Linked DNA regions of Homo sapiens. The protein of the gene in region 1 interacts with the protein of each later gene in a pairwise test. Each region holds a gene or a part of one and is shown on either strand. Other genes may lie near its edges.

Evidence for each region. Proteins that work in one complex are often made in the same cells at the same time.
Region 2: the proteins of EID2B (region 1) and MAGEE1 interact in binary tests that used the Homo sapiens proteins (3 or more experiments, as listed by UniProt).

What each region holds. Positions count from the first base shown.
Region 1 is NC_000019.10:39,530,485-39,537,633, forward strand, and holds EID2B (EP300-interacting inhibitor of differentiation 2B), read right to left. Parts: upstream 2,369-7,149; 5' UTR 2,319-2,368; coding exon 1,833-2,318; 3' UTR 503-1,832; downstream 1-502. UniProt on the Homo sapiens protein: Acts as a repressor of MYOD-dependent transcription, glucocorticoid receptor-dependent transcription, and muscle differentiation.
Region 2 is NC_000023.11:76,423,731-76,430,717, forward strand, and holds the start of MAGEE1 (melanoma-associated antigen E1), read left to right. Parts: upstream 1-3,979; 5' UTR 3,980-4,200; coding exon 4,201-6,987. UniProt on the Homo sapiens protein: May enhance ubiquitin ligase activity of RING-type zinc finger-containing E3 ubiquitin-protein ligases. Proposed to act through recruitment and/or stabilization of the Ubl-conjugating enzyme (E2) at the E3:substrate complex.

The sequences.
Region 1 (7,149 bases):
TTGCACCACTGCACTCCAGCCTGGGTGACAGAGCAAGACTCTGTTTCAAAAAGAAAAAAAAAAAACAGTGTATTATGGAAAACGAGTAAACACGTATAAATGCATAGAAAATGTTAAAACATTTTGCAAACAACCCAGATGTCCAAAAGGTGTCTAGTTCATTATACTAAGATAAGGCTTTACATTGTAGTTGTAAAAAAAAAAACGCCCAGTGGAGTAGCTCACGCCCAGCACTTAGTACTTTGGGAAGCCGAGGCAGGAGGAACAGTTGAAGCCAAGAGTTGGAGACAAGCCTAGAAAACATAATGAGGCCCCATCTCTGTTTCTATATATAAAAAAAGAAAAAAAAAACCCTGATATATAAATCTCTCCATATATAACTGAAAAAACCCAAGATGCTGATAGAGGTATACAATATGTTACCTTGATTTTATATTTTTAAAAATTTATACCTCGTGATGCAAGTTAACTACCTTGATATTAAAAGGGAAAATGCACAATATTTAGATTGATGTTTATTTGCATATGCATTAGAAAACCTGAAAGGCGTACAGTGAAAAAGCAAAAAACAAGCAAAACCAAGAAAACAACAACAAAACTCCAAGCCACAAGCAATGGCACCTGCATGGAATAGTTCTGAGTTTGGCAAAGGACAGCAACAAGAGAGATTTCTCACAGCATCTTTTGATACTTTTTTTCTTTTTTTTGAGACGGAGTCCCACTCTGTTGACCAGGCTGGAGTGCAGTGGCGTGATCTCGGCTTACTGCAACCTCCGCCTCCCAGGTTCAAGTGATTCTCCTGCCTCAGCCTCCCGAGTAGCTGGGACTACAAGCGCGTGCCACCACACCCAGTTAATTTTTTATTTTTCGTAGAGATGGGGTTTCACCATGTTGGCCAGGGTGGTCTTGAATTCCTGACCTCAGGTGATCCACCCGCCGTGGCCTCCCAAAGTGCTGGGATTACAGGCGTAAGCCAGTGCGCCCGGCCGATACTTTTTTTTGTTGAGTCTTGTGAATAGAATACATATTCTAGAATAAAATAAAAAGCTTAAAATTAACAAAAAACAAGTTTATTCCACACCTACCCAATTTCACATAGACTTGAAAACACTGATCATATAATACGTGGTTTTTTCTATTGAATATTTACTGTTCATCTAAAGTACCTCAGAAAACACAAATATGAATCTTACACTAGGATTTGTTGACATGACCACAAATTGTGAAATTTCAAAGTCCTCTCAATAGCCTTCCAATCCTAGTAACTCAGGTACACCTGGATTCCTGACAACTCTATTTCTTTGTTTTCTTTCATCACTTAGGTTCATTTCTATGGGTTCTGTTATTGGCATTTTTTTTTTCTCATATCTTTGCAAAACCATCCTTTATGGTGAAAGTCATGAAGGATTCTTCACAAATGCAGGAAAATGCATTGCTAACAAAGTGCTAAGTCAGAAGTGTCTTGGGACCTGTTTGAAAACAAGATTCGGCCGGGCGCGGTGGCTCACGCCTGTAAAGTAATCCCAGCACTTTGGGAGGCCGAAGCGGGAGGATCGCTCGGGTCCAAGCGTTCGGGACCAGCCTAGGGATGCGAGACTCCCTTCTCTATTTAAATAATACTAAAAAAGAAGAAAGAAAACAAGATTCAACAGTCTTGTCTGTTTCCATTTCGGAGTGTGCTTCCTCCTTCAATTGCACATTGCCGTATTCCCTTCCAGTTTGCATTCCCCCTAATGACTGAGTTAACTAAACTGGCACAGCCTGCCTGTTCTTTTGATCCCAAAAGGGTCACTTGGCTATTCCTTGCCACCAATGTCATCATCACAGCCGACTCAGTCGGCCAGAGGACTGAGGGCCTCGGAGGCAGTCAGCGCTACCGTAAACGCGACAGCAGCGAAGTCCATCTGCGGGGGATCCGCGTCAAAGGCTGCTTCCCTCGCCTTGCAGCCTTCCACAAACAGCCTGCGGCGTTCCTCGAAATCCCGTAGTAATCTGACCGGAATCATGGAGCTACCATCCAGATACTCGCGGAACAACAGCTGCCGGTTAATTTCTAAGAAAGCGAGCTGCTGATGGGGGTCTGGCGCGGAGGCCAGGCCCGGGACGCTGCTGGGGATGGGCCCGGGCACAGGGCCCGGCATCCGCGCCATGGACCGCGCAGCTTCGGCCACTGGGCCTTCCCGAGCCTCCTGCACCCGAACCCCGCCGCCGACTGCCCCCCGCAGTACGTCGCTGACGCCACTCGCGGTGCCCACCTGTGGGACACTGCTATCTCCGGGGAGCTCGGACATCTCCAACAGCCCAGTCGGCTCCGCCATAGTCCCAGCGTTTCTACGGAGACTGGAATAACGGCACTGCACTGCTGTATGCGAGACCTGCGCATGCGCGAGTCTCAGTGAGCGCGTAAACGCTGTGCGTGCCAGAGTGTGCGCATGCGTAAGCACGGTGGCCAATCCTCTAGCGTTCCCTAGCGGTCCTGAGTAGCCATTACGTCTGTAGCCGCCTCTGGTCCTCTGAGCGCCTGAGGACCTGCGGACTGCGCGGTATCTTAAATTACAACCACTTCAGTATTAATGTAAAGTTCCTTATACGGTCATTTTCCAGCTCCTGTCTTTTTTTTTTTTTTTTCAGACTGGGTCTCGCCCTGTCGCCTAGGCTGGAGTGCAGTGGTGCGATCTCGGTTACTGCTGCTTTGACCTCCCAGCCTCAAGCCATCCTCCTGCCTCAGCCTCTGGAGTAACTGGAACTACAGGTGCACACAACCACACCCAGCTGATTTTTTATTTTTTGTAGAAATTGGGTCTCACTATGTTGCCCAGGCTGGTCTCGAACTCCTGGACTCAAGTGATCATCCTGCCTTGGCCTCCCAAAGTGCTGGGATTACCGGCCTGAGCCACTCGGCCTGGCCTGTAAGTAATATTTTGACACTGGAAGTTTGGGGGTTTCCCAAAACCACCTTTAGGTTTGATAATTCCCAGAGCTCATTGAAATCTGTTATATTCACAGTCATGCTTATTACAGGCAAAGGACACAGATTAGAAGAGATGTATAAGGCACAATCTGGGATGGGGAGGGTTCCAAATGTGAAGTTCCTGTGTTCCTAGGGATGTGTTACCCTTTGTCGTCCATGTGTGGCAATAAGTGTGGGGGTAGTGCTAACATAGGACTCTCACCCAGGCTTTGGTGTCCAGAGTTTTTACTGGGGTTTTACTACCTAGGCATGCTTGATTAAACCATCGTCCATTTTGTTGAAGTCAATCTCCAGCCTCCTACCTGATATCACATGGCTCCAAGCCCCAACTCTCTAATGATATGGTTAGCCTTTCTGTGTGGCTAGCTCTGATCCTGATGATAACCCAAAACGTGAAAGTCTATGTTCCATTTAAAATCAGTCAGCTGTGGCTGGGTGTAGTGGCTCATGCCTGTAATCCCAGCAAGTTGGGAGGCAAAGGTGGGAGGATCGCTTGAGCCCATGAGTTTGAGACCAGCCTGGGCAACATAGTGAGACCCCTGTCCCTACAGAAAAAAAAAATTAGGCAGGCATGGTGGCATGTGCACCTGTAGTCTCAGCTATTCAGGAGGCTGAGGTGGGAGGATGACTTGAGCTTGGTAGGTGGACTGTGCAGTGAGCTATGATTGCACCACTGCACTCCAGCCCTGTATGACAGAGCAAGACCCTGTCTCGAAAAAAAATCCTTTGAATTTAGCTGGAATCCAAATATGAGAGTTGCTGGCAATTGAACTTCAGGAGGATCCATCTAAAAATTCTGACCTATCACAGGTCGTGTCTGGGAGCTGATTGGGTTGGAAATCATTCTGACTCACGTGTACCTTACTTTGTTTCTACAGTTCTCTTGGAGAGATGGAGTTCTCCTACATGTGACATATATGCTTCAAAAAGCACATTTGTGATATTCCACAGAAGACAAAAGAAAGGACTTCTCTGGAAGGTAACTTCAAGGGGACAACAACAGAGCTATGGACTGCAGGAAGATGGCCTGCTTCTCTTCCAGTGTGATTTGGATCATGGCCATTTTGAAGCCTTTGAACTGGGATTAGTTGCTGGGCTGGGTCATCAGGAACTTGCGTGTCCATCTCAGGGAGACCTGGCCTTCAGAAATGACAGCATTCGGCCCCAGGAGGAGCCTGCAATTCGGCCTCAGTCTTCCCAGCGTGTGCTGCCCATGGGGATACAGGACAGTAAGGAGCTAAGCAGAACCTGCTGCCTGAATGGGGGAACCTGCATTGGGGTCCTTTTGTGCCTGCCCCCCGTCCTTCTATGGATGGAACTGTGAGCACGATGTGTGCAAAGAGAACTGTGGGTCTGTGCTCCATGACACCTGGCTGCCCAAGAAGTGTTCCCTGTGTAAATGCTGGCACGGCCAGCTCTGCTGCTTTCCTCAGGCATTTTACTGGCTGTGATGGCCTTGTGATGGATGAGCATCTCATGGCTTCCAGGACTCCAGAACTACCACCGTCTGCATGTACCACTTTTATGCTAGCTGGCATCTGCCTTTCTATACAAAGTTACTATTAATTGACACTGACCTATTTCCAGAAATACCATTTTAGATATCATGCAAATTTCATGACCAGTAAAAGCTGCTGCTACAATGAAAGATGATCATTTGTTAGTTTACTTAAAATAATGAGTATATTTCCAAAATGGTCTCTAACATTTCCTTACAGTATCAACAACTTCTTACTTCTTTGCCCTGCCCTCTCCCAAAAAACGACTTCTTTTTTCAAAAGAAAGTCAGCCATATCTCCACTGCACCCAAGTCCAGTGTTTCTTTCTTTTTTTGAGATGGAGTCTCGCTCTGTCACCCAGGCTGGAGTGCAGTGGCACGATCTCAGCTCACTGCAACCTCTGCCTCCTGGGTTCAAGCAATTCTCCTGCCTCAGCCTCCCCAGTAGCTGGGATTACAGGCATGTGCCACCATGCACGACTAACTTTTTTGTATTTTTAGTAGAGACCGAATTTCACCATATTGGCGAGGTTGGTCTTAAACTCCTGACCTTGTGATCTGCCTGCCTTAGCCTCTCAAAGTGCTGGGATTACAGGCGTGAGCAACTGCTCAAGGCCTCGTGTTTATTGATACATGTAATTCTACCAAGGTCTTCTTAATATGTTCTTTTAAACGACTGAATTATATCTTCAGATTATTAAAGACTAATCTTAATGTGGACCTTAGGATACAGTTTTGAGTAGAGTTGATCAAAATCAATTAACATTGTCTCTTTAAAAGGAAAGACAGCCTCTTTAAGGCGAGGAACCAGAGTGATGAAGGAATGGAAGTCTGTCTGCATGTGTGCAGGGAGACTGGGTAAGAAAGAGGAAGCAAATGGGAGAGAGAGGTTGGAAAACATAAAATAGGTTATTTAACTGGTGATTAGGTGGGTGTAGAGAAGCAAGTTAAAAGGCTAAATGGAAGGGCAAGTTTCCATCATCTAATGAAAGATATATAAGACAAGGACTCCCCTTTTTTTCCTAAAGGCATTGTAAAAAGAATTGATTTTTAGACGGAGTCTCGCTCTGTCGCCAGGCTGGAGTGCAGTGGCGCAATCTCGGCTCACTGCAACCTCTGCCTCCCAGGTTCAAGTGATTCTCCTGCCTCAGCCTTTGTAAAAAGTCTTTTTAGAAAAAATATTATACCTCAATGTCCCCAACAAAATTGCTTAATAAATTATGCTTCCTCCAAGCTATGCAATTCTTTTAACTGTTGTAGAAGAGAAAATGTTCAGTGTATTTAGTTGTAAACCAAGTGATAAAACCACATATTGTAAAGCTCATTTAAAAAATACATTGTATATATGTGTATGCACAGTAAAAATGGAAAATATATTGAAAAAAAATTTGATCCTTATATTGTACCTGAGAATAAATTTCAAATGGCTCAAAGATTCAAATGTGGACAATGAAACCACACACACACACACCCAAGACTACCTTAGGATTCAAAATACTGCAGGTTTATTTATTTTTTATTTTTTGAGACAGGATCTCACTTTGTCACCCATGCTGGAGCTTGCTGGGCTCAAACGATCCTTCTACCTCAGCCCCCAGAGTAGATGGGATTAGAGGCTTGTGCCACTACACCAGGCTAATTTTTCATATTTTTCATAGAGACAGGGTTTCGCCATGTTGCCCAGGCTGGTCTTGAACTCCTGAGCTCAAGTGGTCTGCCTGCCTCAGCCTCCCAAAGTGTGGGATTACTGATGTGAGCCACTGTGCCCGGCCTCCTGCAAATTTAAAGGAAAATAGGCAACAAAAATTACCATGGCCAAAGGCTTTCCAAAAAGCCAAAATCTAATGACAACTTGTGAAAAAATATTCGTAACTCATATCCCAAGCTATTATCATACCTCATATCACTAACATGAGTATCATAAATAGCTACTGGATTCAATGAAGAAAGGACAAAATTATCTGGGAGGGGAATGGATAAAGAATATGAACAAGGCATGGTGGCTCACACCTATAATCCCAGAACTTTGGGAGGCCAAGGAGGGAGGATCATCTGAGGTCAGGAGTTGGAGACTAGACTGGCCAACATGGTGAAACCCATGTTAAAAATACAAAATGAGCCAGGTGAAGTGGCATGTGCCTGTAATTCCCGTTATTTGGGAAGCTGAGGCACGAGAATCGCTTGAACCTGGGAGGCGGAAGTTGCAGTGAGCTGAGATGGTACCACTGCACTCCAGCCTGGGCGAGAGAGTGAGACTTTGTCTAAAAAAAAGAGTATGAACAGAGAGTTTATGGAAAAGGGAATATATATGACTCTTAAAAGATATTTAACTGGCTGGGTGCGGTTGCTCACGCCTATAATCCCACCACTTTGGGAGGCCGAAGTAGGTGGATCACCTGAGGTCAGGAGTTCAAAACCAGCCTGGCCAGCATAGTGAAACCCCATCTCTACTAAAAATACAAATTAGCCAGGTGTGTTGGTGCATGCCTGTAATCCCAGCTCTTGGGAGGCTGAGGCAGGAGAATCCCTTGAGCCTGGGAGGTGGAGGTTGCAGTGAGCCAAGATCGCACAATTGCACTCCAGCCTGGACAACAAGAGTGAAACTCCCATCTCAAAAAAAAAAAAAAATTTAACTTCGCTCATCATAAAAGCGAATTAAAACTGATATACCATTTTTCAA
Region 2 (6,987 bases), on another chromosome or scaffold:
GGGCAGATTGGCTATGAAAGGGTTTTGAAATCCTTGTTTGTACCCTTATAGGATTCTGTCTCCTTTATTTCTGGCAAGAAACTTAGGCACTGCAAAATAACATACAATTTTAATTATAAGACAACATTGGGCCAGGGGATGGACTGTTATATGCATGAGCCAAAGATAGTCTCTATATATTGATTCTGCCAGTACCAAACTCAATTTTTTACACATCAATTGTTTTAAATATAGACCAATAAGTAGATTGTTAGCCATTTAGAGGCTGCCTTCTTTGCATGTCCCTGTGAAACTACAATCATCTGTTAGCTATAGATAGGATAAACTCCAGGAGATAAAAACCCTAACCTACTGCTGCCCTTCAGAGATCTCTGACCCAGCAACTCCCTGTCTTGCTGCTGAGAGACATCGCTACATGTATAAGCCATCTCTTTGATTCCCCTCCCTCTCTCCAGTTAGCTTGTCCTCTCATTTTCTAGGTTGTGACCTCCCACCAGCCTCTGGAAGATCTCAGACTTTGATTAACCCCATGCCCTTGCAAACCTGTCAAAGGGTTGACCAAATGAAACTCGTATGCTTATACACTGTTGGTGGGAATGTAAATTAGTAATAATAAACACTATATATAGTTCAACCACTATAGAAAGCAGTTTGGAGATTTCTCAAAGAACATAAAACACAACTACCATTCAATTCAGTAATCACATTATCGGGCATATATCCAGAAGAAAAGAAATCATTCAACCAAAAAGACACATACACTCATAGTTGTTTGCAGCCTTATTAACAAGAGCAATGACATGGAGTCAACTTAGGTGTCTATCACTGATATTTGCTAAAGAAAATGTGGTACATATATACCATGGAATACAACACAGCCATAAAAACTAATGAAATAATGTCCTTTGCAGCAACATGGATGCAGCTGAAGGCCATTATCCTAAGCGAATTTACACAGAAACAGAAAACCAAATACCATATGTTCTCATTTATAAGTTGGAGCTAAAGATTGGGTACTCATCAACATAAAGGTGGCAAAAACAGACACTGGAGGACTATTAGAAGGGGGAAGAAGAAAGGGGGTCATGGGTTGAAAAACTGTTGAGTATTATGCTCACTACCTGGGTGATGAGATCATCTGTTTTCCAAACCTCAGCATCATGCAATATACCCATATAACAAACCTGTGTATGTATCCCCAGAATCTAAAATAAAAGTTGAAATTCTAAAACAGACAAACAACAAAAACTCATTGTGTGTTACTGAAAACGTGTGGTAGTATATATTTTTCTTGATCAGTCCCCAAATCTCTTGCACTCACTTGTTTCCTATATTTTAATTCTACATATAAATTACACAAAACATATTATTATTATTGTTTTACATTGTCAATATGTCTGTTTACCCACATATTTATCCTTTCTATTACTGTTCGCTTCTTGCATCTCTTCAGTTTCAGAGGAGAACCTTTCAGTATTTCCTCAGTGTGGGTGTACTGGTGATCAATTTACTCAGCACTGATTTCTGAACATGTATTTATTTTGCCTTCATTTTTGATGTACTATTTCAGTAAGTTCAGAATTCCAAATTATCAGCTTACAAATCATTAAATTCCTTAAGTGACAAACTTGTATACAATGTAAGACTCACCTCTTTGCACTTCCCTTTTTTCTGAGATCATTACTCTTGAAGTCCTCATTGCCTTTATAGGTTTCTGATGCTATATTGGTAGCCTTTGTTGCCATAAAAGGGTTTCTTTACCTAAATTTCTGGGGTTTTTTTTCCGCAGGGCTGCTGCAATCAACTATACATTATTAGAAATGGAATTCTTTGATATCATTATAATGACTTACTGGTATTCCATTTTTAGTACCATAATTTCTTCAAATACTCTTTAGTTATTTAACATTCATTTAGTTTTCAGCTCTGTTATACTAGAACAAATTATATAATAAAAGTTATTTTAGCTAAATATTTGCACATATATCTTATTATTTCTTTAGAATATATTTCTAGAGGTAAAAATTTTTAGTTTATAGGTTTGAACAACTTCAGGGTCTTTAAAAATCACTGTACCCTAGGTTAGGAATATCTGTTGCTAAAGCTTAGAAATATCTTAGGTTTTTTTGTGCCTCCCATTCTGAATAGGCCCCAGGCATAAAAACTGCATTGGACTTCACAGAACCGAAACTGGTTATTCATATAAGGGATTGCTTCTCCAATTGGAGACAGAGATGGTGACACATTGTGACTGTAGCCAGTTATTTTCCCTTTCCTAAAGACGTATTAAAAAAAAGTATTGGAACCAACCCAAATGCCCATCAATGACAGACTGGATAAAGAAAACATGGCACATATACACCATGGAATACTATGCAATAAAAAAGGATGAGTTCATGTCCTTTGCAGGGGCATGGATGAAGCTGGAAACCATCATTCTCAGAAAATTAACACAAGAACAGGAAACCAAACACCACACGTTCTCACTCATAAGTGGGAATTGAACAATTACAACACATGGACACAGGGAGGGGAACATCACACACCAGGGCCTGTCAAGAGGTGGGGAGATAGGGGAGGGATAGCATTAGGAGAAATACCTAATGTAGATGATGGGTTGATGGGTGCAGCAAACCACCATGGCACGTGTATACCTAGGTAACAAATCTGCACATTCTGCACATGTACCCCAAAACTTAAAGTATAAAAAAAAAGAAAAAAAGACAAAAGTATACTCCCAGATTTTTGAGAAGATATAAAGAAAGACAACATATAATAAATGTTTGCAGCAAGATATAAACATATCAATAAAGGGTCAATAGTGGTAAGCTGAATTGTAGTGGTTGTGTGAGTGTCAGAAAGTTAGTGTTTTCCCTCTATCTCTCTTCCTCTCTCTCTCTCCCCTACTTCTAAAAACAGCCTGCCCGTCCTCTTCAGTGTTTTCTTTCTTACTCACTGCTGCCGTGCTACTCTCAGTTGGAATGATTTTCTCATCCTTGTCCTTTTGGTAAATATCTACCCACTCATCTTTTTAAACATCTCCTCTTTTATGAAGCCTTTTCTGCATCTACAGGTAGAACTGACCCTGCCATCCCCTGCATTCTTTACAAACTTCTAGAAAATTTAGCTTTACTTTTTCTCTGACTCCCATTTTTACATCGGGTGCTCCTTGATGACAAAGAGATTAACTGTAACTTCGGGATAGATGACCAGTGTTTGTTGAGTGAATGAATAAAGGGATCAGGGTTGGATCTGCTCAAAAGTGCTAGAGTAATAGAGCAAAACAGAGCAGGTAACACATCCCTTAACACTCGGTATCTCAACTGACTTTCACAAAAGCTCTATTAAATGAGCAGGTGATTGTGGAGTGAAAGAATTAAACAAATTTTCAAGAGTTTTAGTGGCTTTCCCACTAAAGCCTGGGTGACTGGGAAAGTTTGGGCTGGGAATGTTGGGCTTTTCAAGCGTGTTCGAAGCTCCCTAATTGGTACTAAATTTCAGGCATTCAGACCCTCTAGGAAAGAGTTCTTTCTAGCTCACAACATTAGGGGAGGAGTTAGACACATAAATGGAGAAAGTGATAGAAGAGACATGGTCAGGGATGGGGGTTCTACCCTTCCAGAGACAATGCACATTTTCTTTGAAACAGCTTCGGGAAAACTGCAAATCTCAATGATATTTACCAATTTTGAGAATCTATTAAGTGCCTGGCACTCTGTGTAGAAGCCCTCCAATCGTACCCTAAATCTGAGAAGTATTTATTATTATTTCCATTTTTACTCCCTAATGCATCTACTCTAAGCTCCTTGCTTCACCCTACCAAAGTTTCCCTTCTGCTAGTGCTCTCCTTTGGTGCAGAACCACCGCATCCACTTTCTCAGGCCCAGGGGAGGGGCGGGGCGGGGCGATTTCGCCTTGCCGCAGAGCCAGTCTGCGCCTGCGCGGACTGCGGCAGAGGGCGGGGTGTGAGAAGCAGAGTACAGTGAGACTAGCATTCACTGCTGGCCAGTGCCTGCCTTTTTCACCACCTCTAATTTCAGCTTCAGCAGTTGCTTGGAACTTTGGTTCTGGCAGCAGCAGCAACATCATTACCGCTAGCGGCAGTTTTGTGCCGAGGCACCTACACACCTCCCGTCCTCTCTGCCAGATCGCGGGCCTGTCGGTGTCTGCTCCTACACGCCAACGCCGGTGGGCAGGACCATGTCTCTGGTAAGCCAGAATTCGCGCCGCCGCCGCCGCCGCGTTGCAAAGGCTACTGCGCACAACAGCAGCTGGGGCGAAATGCAGGCCCCTAATGCCCCCGGTCTCCCCGCTGATGTGCCAGGCTCAGACGTCCCCCAGGGTCCCAGCGATTCCCAGATCCTCCAGGGCCTCTGCGCCTCTGAGGGCCCAAGCACCTCCGTTCTGCCCACCTCCGCTGAGGGCCCAAGCACCTTTGTGCCGCCCACCATCTCTGAGGCCTCAAGCGCCTCCGGGCAGCCCACCATCTCTGAGGGACCTGGCACCTCCGTGCTGCCCACCCCCAGTGAGGGCCTAAGCACCTCCGGGCCTCCCACCATCTCTAAGGGGCTGTGCACCTCTGTGACGCTTGCCGCCTCTGAGGGCCGGAACACCTCCAGGCCGCCCACTTCCTCTGAGGAACCTAGCACCTCCGTGCCGCCCACCGCCTCTGAGGTACCGAGCACCTCCCTGCCGCCCACCCCTGGTGAGGGAACGAGCACCTCCGTGCCGCCCACAGCCTATGAGGGACCAAGCACCTCCGTGGTGCCCACCCCTGATGAGGGACCAAGCACCTCCGTGCTGCCTACACCTGGTGAGGGACCAGGCACCTCCGTGCCGCTCGCCGCCACTGAGGGCCTGAGCACCTCCGTGCAGGCCACTCCTGATGAGGGACCGAGCACCTCCGTGCCGCCCACCGCCACTGAGGGCCTAAGCACCCCCGTGCCACCCACCCGTGATGAGGGACCGAGCACCTCCGTGCCGGCCACTCCTGGTGAGGGACCGAGCACCTCCGTGCTGCCCGCCGCCTCTGACGGACAAAGCATCTCCTTGGTGCCCACCCGCGGTAAGGGATCAAGCACCTCCGTGCCCCCCACCGCCACCGAGGGCCTGAGCACCTCCGTGCAGCCCACTGCTGGTGAGGGATCGAGCACCTCCGTGCCGCCCACCCCTGGTGGGGGACTGAGCACCTCCGTGCCGCCCACCGCCACTGAGGAGTTGAGCACCTCCGTGCCGCCCACTCCCGGTGAGGGACCAAGCACTTCCGTACTGCCAATCCCCGGTGAGGGACTGAGCACCTCTGTGCCGCCCACCGCCTCTGATGGATCGGACACCTCCGTGCCGCCCACTCCTGGTGAGGGCGCAAGCACCTTAGTGCAGCCCACCGCCCCTGACGGACCGGGAAGCTCCGTGCTGCCTAACCCTGGTGAGGGCCCGAGCACATTGTTTAGCTCTAGTGCTTCTGTGGACCGGAACCCCTCCAAGTGTTCCCTTGTTTTGCCAAGCCCTAGGGTAACCAAGGCCTCCGTGGACTCAGATTCTGAGGGTCCTAAGGGTGCAGAAGGCCCTATAGAATTCGAGGTCCTGAGAGACTGTGAGAGCCCCAACTCCATTAGTATTATGGGCCTCAATACTTCCCGGGTTGCAATTACCCTGAAGCCCCAAGACCCTATGGAACAGAACGTAGCTGAGCTGTTGCAGTTCCTGCTGGTGAAGGATCAGAGCAAGTACCCTATCCGGGAGTCTGAAATGCGGGAATATATTGTTAAAGAATATCGCAACCAGTTTCCTGAGATACTCAGGCGAGCAGCAGCCCACCTGGAGTGCATTTTTAGGTTTGAATTGAGAGAACTTGACCCTGAGGCACACACCTACATTCTGTTAAACAAACTGGGACCTGTGCCCTTTGAAGGGTTAGAAGAGAGCCCAAATGGGCCAAAGATGGGCCTCCTGATGATGATTCTAGGCCAAATATTCCTGAATGGCAACCAAGCCAAGGAGGCTGAGATTTGGGAAATGCTCTGGAGGATGGGGGTGCAGCGGGAAAGGAGGCTTTCCATTTTTGGGAACCCAAAGAGACTTCTGTCTGTGGAGTTTGTATGGCAGCGTTACTTAGACTACAGGCCAGTAACTGACTGTAAACCAGTGGAGTATGAGTTTTTCTGGGGCCCAAGATCCCACCTAGAAACCACCAAGATGAAAATTCTGAAGTTCATGGCGAAAATATATAACAAAGATCCTATGGATTGGCCAGAGAAATACAACGAAGCTCTGGAAGAAGATGCTGCCAGAGCCTTTGCTGAGGGTTGGCAGGCTCTCCCTCACTTTAGGAGGCCCTTTTTTGAGGAAGCTGCTGCAGAGGTACCATCCCCTGATTCAGAGGTTTCCAGCTATTCCTCAAAATATGCCCCACATTCATGGCCTGAGTCAAGATTGGAGAGCAAGGCAAGGAAGCTGGTGCAGTTATTTCTGCTTATGGATTCAACTAAGCTGCCTATACCAAAGAAAGGAATTCTGTACTACATTGGCCGAGAGTGCAGCAAAGTGTTCCCTGACCTCCTGAATCGTGCTGCCCGCACCCTGAACCATGTCTATGGGACAGAACTAGTGGTACTTGATCCCAGGAATCACTCCTATACTCTGTACAACCGAAGGGAGATGGAAGAAACTGAGGAGATCGTAGACAGTCCAAACAGGCCTGGCAACAACTTTTTGATGCAGGTCCTAAGCTTCATCTTTATTATGGGCAACCATGCCAGGGAGTCTGCAGTCTGGGCCTTTCTGCGGGGCTTAGGGGTTCAAGCTGGGAGAAAGCATGTGATTACCTGCAGATACTTGAGTCAGCGCTATATAGACAGTTTACGGGTTCCTGACAGTGATCCAGTGCAATATGAGTTTGTATGGGGTCCTAGAGCCCGTTTGGAAACCTCTAAGATGAAAGCCTTGCGATATGTGGCCAGAATCCACAGAAAGGAACCACAGGACTGG